Regions from separate parts of the Homo sapiens genome. Here region 2 is linked to region 1. A link means that fine-mapping ties the variant in region 1 to the expression of a gene that starts in the linked region. Tissue or cell type: whole blood. Region 1 holds a variant in brackets; the other region holds the start of a gene. All regions are shown on one strand. Distances are between the middles of the regions.

Region 1 (2,689 bases):
GAATTCCACTTTGTTGAACCTGTTGGCATTTTGGTGGCGGCTTTCTAACTTGGACTTTTTTCCCTCTATTGTGAATTTTTCTTTAATTTCATTATTGAAATTTTAAATTGTGGAACAACCTAGATACAGGAAAGTGTGCAAATCATATTATACCTCAATGAATGTTTATGCATTGATATACCTGTATACTTCACTCAACTCAAGATCTAGCACATTTTTAGCCCACAGAAGGCTCCTGGGGCCCTTTCCCAACCAATAACTCCTCCCTGGTAAACTCTGCTATTACCTTCATGTGAATGGAACCATAAACTATGTACTTTCATGTGTCAGTAATTTGTTATTTTGTTTCATAGTATTCCATGGCATGAATGTACCACAACATATCCTTCCCTGTTGATGAATCTTTTTATTGATGAATATTGCTATTACACGTGAAGATGCCTTGAACATCTCCACTGTGGATTCTTAATTTTTTCATGCCACTCCCTGTAGAAATTGTGATAAATAAAATTCTGCAGAGGGTTTACATGTTCCCAGCTAATCTTGCTCCACGTTGGTTTGGTTACTTTGGCACCAGAATTTAAAGGAAGATGAAAAATCTCTGTGCATGCCCCTGTAGTCCCAGCTACTCGGGAGGCTGAGGCAGGAGAATCGCTTGAACCCAGGAGGCGGAGGTTGCAGTGAGCTGAGATTGCGCCACTGCACTCCAGCCTGGGAGACAGAGCAAGACTGTGTCTCAAAACAAACAAGCAAACAAACTAACTCACTCCTCTGTAGCCCCAGATTTTAGAAAAGAGAGAGAAAGAGAGGGAAGGAGAAAAGGAGGGAGGGAGGATGGGAAAATGTGTAGGCATGTTAGTATAAAATTTTAAATTAATAATTCCCATTTTATGGAGATATCTGATCATCTTAATTTGCAATGGCTAAATAAGTAATGCTTACATGATTATAGACTTCTTTTCCTCACTTTTGGAAACACTTTATGCCCTCTGGAAATTCTTTTAAAAAACTTTGTTGTATCCCTTTAAAAAGTGATAAAATCATAGTGTCTAGTGCAAATTTTAGGGCAAAGTTCAGTAGGTAATTTGGTTGACTTTAAGTATTTTTCTGAAAGGCTTTTTTTGTTGTTGCTTTGTTTGTTGTTTAACTTGATGAAGACTCCAAACTGTTGAATGAATCTCAGGGAGGCTGAGAAACACAGTAAAATGTATCTTTAAGTATTCACTATGGTTTGTGCACTATGACAAGCCATCTCCATTGCTGACTCTTATGTTTTG[A/G]TTCCTTATTTCATTTCCTTAAATGTCTCTGCTTTTGTTGTTACTTTATTTTGCTTCCTCAAATGCAGAGTAATTAGACATTCAAGTTTTTTGTTGAGCCCTAGAATCTATTACATTAATAAATTAACTAGTTACCTAGACATTATCCCTTTTCTTTTTTTTTCTTTGTTTCTTTTTCTAATTTTTTTGTAGAGGTGGGGTCTCAGGCCAGGCGCCATGGCTCATGCCTGTAATCCAAGCACTTTGGGAGGCCAAGGTGGGTGGATTGCCTGAGCTCTGGAGTTCAAGACCAGCCTGGACAACATGGTGAAACCCCCTCTCTACTAAAATACGAAAAATTAGCTGGAAGTGGTGGTGCACGCCGGTAGTGCCAGCTACCTGGGAGGCTGAGGCATGAGAATTGTTTGAACTCAGGCGGCGGAGGTTGCAGTGAGCCAAGATCGTGCCACTGCACTCCAGCCTGGGTGACAGAGCAAGACTCTGTCTTAAAAAAAAAAAAAAAAAGAGATGGGGTCTCACTGTGTTTCTCTGGCTGATCTTGAACACCTGGGCTCAAGCAATCTTCCTGCCTCGGCCTCCCAAAGTGCTGGGATTACAGGCATGAGCCACTGCCTAACCAACACTGTCCCTTTTCAATTTTTGTATATAGATCATCTAGGAAACTAGTTAAAATAATCTGTACATAGCAAGTTATTTGCCCAGTAGTTTATTTTTTTATTACAGAGATCTTAATTTCTTTCATTAAGATTAAGGATAGTCTTTTAAACTGTGTGTTCATTTTGGGAATGTCAGCTTATTTTTAATTGTGTTGTTTGTTTACTTATAGTAAAAATGCATATTCTTTATCACATCATTGTTCAATGTTTGATATCATAGTACAGTCATTTCCAATAAAGTTTATGCCAAATGAAGTTTGAGAAGCCTTATGATAAATCAAATTATTTCAAGCCACAGAACCTGTTAAAAGTAGCCACTTGGTAGTGCAAAATAAATTGAAAGTGATATGAAAATAGTGACAAATGGCTGTGCAAACATGGCAAGCCAAGTTCTGGACATTAGCCCTTCAACCAAAAAAAAGGTTAATCTAAGGAAAAAATACAAATGACTTTTCAATTTCTAGTTTTTAACATTCATATTAGAAGATTAAAATATAGTTCGAGTTTGTCTATGACTTTCCCTCTAGCATTTAGGGCTGGTAGAGTGGAGCTTCTAAGATGAGTGTTTTGCCCCATCACCCACGTGCTGGAAGCAGTTTTATTTCAAGATGGAATAGAAACTCTACAGGCCAAAGTTGAGAGGAAAAAGATAAATATTTGTGTTGATGAGTGGTGACCATAGAAATACTTCTATATAAGTATATGGCCGGGTGAGGTGGCTCATGCCTGTAATCCCAGCACTTTGGGAGGCTGAGG
Region 2 (2,689 bases), 46 kb after region 1:
GCACCATTTTCGTTGTTTTGGATGTTTTTTGTAGAGATACAAAACAAAAAATAACCTTCTTTCATGAAGGTATAATATGCAGGTTAGCGGGACTACCTAGCCGTCCATACTGAATGGGTTTGGAAATCCCAACTCTTTTCTCTACCTGCTCTGTGATACCAGGCAAGTTAAAGTCTTGTGTGCCTCAGTTTCCTACCTCACCGTGTTATGGTGATTAAATTAATATATATGTGGAGTACTTGACACACAGTCAAGCCTGCGATTACTGCTGTTCATGGTTTTATTTTCTCTACTAGACACCAGTAAGGCACCCCCAGAACTCGCTGTGTTAAGTAGATTCTGGTTGGATATAGAAACACAGGCACCCCAGGCGGAATGCAGATACGCCTCAACATGTGGATTAAGTAAGAGCCAGGAAGCAGAGTAATGAAGCAAAAATAAGACGTCCAGAGTCACCTTTTAAGAAAATGTGGGTTGGTGGTTGCTTAAGAGGGGAGGAGACAATTTAGATGGGATGTATGGCGTGAGCAAAGGGCAAGAATGAGCACGGTGTAGGCACAAGTCCATGGAACTGCTTGGCTGGATCGGGATTTTTTTGTCATAGAGTGTTAAGAAATAGTCGATCAGTTGAGGAGTAGAGGAGTGAAGACCTTGGAAAGTTGCCAAAAGCCTCGAGAATTTCTCTACATGTGTGACATGTTCTCAGGACTCAACTTTTTCTTTTAGGTTTGGAAGACCCGCAGTAAGTGTGCTTTAGAATTAAATGGGTGGGAAGGGGAGCTAGGCAAAACACCTCGCACTTAGCACTAAATAAAGTTCGCTGTTGCCCTAAGAGACTGAAAAGGTTACTTTAACAAAGGGGGCGGGGTTAACTTAACGTAGATGTTTAACTCGTATACAGATGAACATTCCAGTTGATCACTCTGAAGCTTTTTGGCTAAAGCGTTTGGGTTTAGAGCTTCCATTACTCATTCGCCTTGCCCAAGGCCTCAGCAACCGACGTTCGAAAGCCAGGAGAAAAGGCGAATGATAAAGGGCGCTCCACGCATGCGTTAAGAAGCCGCCCCAACTCCCCCGCGGCGTTCTTTCTTGGAACAAAACTAGCGCGGAGCCACGGAACTCCGCAGTTTGCGTAGACTTGAATTTCCTATTCCTCGGACGATCCATGTGGAATCCGTGAGTAGTGCGACTCCTTTACGCAACTGGCGTTATCCGAAGTGAATAGCTAGGTGGCGCGTGTACGCCCATAGCGTAGCACCCATAGGCGGACGGGGTGCGGCTGCGCAGGGAGCTGAGTGGACCTTGTACGCCGCAAGCGTAGCAGGGTGTCAGACGCGCCGGTTTCTGCGACGCAGTTAGCGCAGTCTGCTTTGGTGAATACACGATTTGGTGCAGCCGGGGTTTGGTACCGAGCGGAGAGGAGATGCACACGGCACTCGAGTGTGAGGTAACTATAAAACCCCGATTTGTTTACATTCCCTCCCCCAGAACCGGCCCCGTGCGCGGCGGAGACTGCGAGTCCCGGGACGGCGTGGGGGTAGAAAGGGAGAACAGAACCGGGGAGTCGGGGCTGGTTCCCTCGGGGATGCGGGCGCTGGGGTTCCCGCAGCTGCTGCAGTCGGCGGCGGCCAGCCGAAGCAGAGCGCGTGGTGGGCAGAGTGTTGGGCGCCGCGGCTCCTCGTGTGCGGTCTGGGCTGCTGCGGGCCGCGGGATCGGGAGCCGGCGGCATCCACTTCGCGTGCGGAGCCTCGCGCCCCCCTCACCTTCCTGTGGAGGTTGGCGGAGCCTCGCGGGCCGCGCCCGGGGTGGGGGAGTGACCGCTGGGCGGGTGGCGGCGGTTAGGGGGCTGCGCGCCGGCCGCGGATGGCGTCGCAGGCGCGGGCGGGCGAGGCTTTGGGGATCTGTAGGCAGGTCTTCGGGGGCTTGGCGACCAGCGCCCCGGTTTTTTCTTCTCCAGTCCTTCTCTCTGGTCTGTAATGGGGCGAGGGGACCCCGGGATGGAGCCTCGGCACCGCTGTTCCGGACCGAGGCTAACGGACGGCGGCGCCTCTGCTCCTACTAGTTTTCTCCCGGACCAACCGAAAAGCCGAGGCGGAGCGCGGGGGTGTGAAGATCTCGGCCTGCTGGGGGTCCCTGGAGCTGAGGGTGAGGGTGGGGCCGGGTCGGTGGGACAGGCCGGGTGGGCCGGAGGTGGCGCGGCCGCACGGCTTTGTTCCGGAAAGCCCTTAGGTGGAGAGCGATGTGGGGCGCGGCAGGGGGATCGCGTAGAGGAACCTTCGCGCACCGCCTCTCCGGGTCTGGGAATCTGCTGAACTCCTTGCCTCTCCTGGGGTCCCTCGAACGCCCCAGCTAAGAAGGGCGGGGGCCTTGCCAGGGCGCGAGCAACATGACGTTCAAGGTCTTCCTGTGGCTTCTGTAAAGAAATGTTCACGTGGGAGCCTGTCCACATGGGCTGTACTAAGGATCTGGCACGAGGAAGAAATATCACTGCAGAACCTGAAGCCCTCCGTTGGAAGGGTCGTTCACTCGAGTACCTATTCTAAGTAACAGTGACACAAAACACATGTTAGAAAAAAACAAAAAGTATGGTAGGTTATACTGTTTTTTAAAAGAAACTTTTATTTATGCCTTTTGCTGTTAAGTCCTCTAATTTTACATTGGAACTGAGTCATTCTTGGAGCAAAACTAG

The links. PIP is the estimated chance that this variant, and not a neighbour inherited with it, causes the effect.
Region 2: it holds the start of SLC39A10, and the variant in region 1 is fine-mapped to the expression of SLC39A10 in whole blood (TOPMed, PIP 0.92).

What each region holds. Positions count from the first base shown.
Region 1 is chr2:195,609,635-195,612,323 of GRCh38, forward strand. No RefSeq gene overlaps it. Among named protein-coding and RNA genes, the nearest start is that of LINC01827, 36 kb to the left of the region's middle. The variant A/G (reference allele first, on the strand shown) is at 1,278.
Region 2 is chr2:195,655,835-195,658,523 of GRCh38, forward strand. It overlaps SLC39A10 (solute carrier family 39 member 10), which reads left to right and starts at 1,392. Exons shown (of 10, transcript NM_020342.3): 1 at 1,392-1,447. RefSeq lists silencers at 1,661-1,710, 1,741-1,860, 2,061-2,160.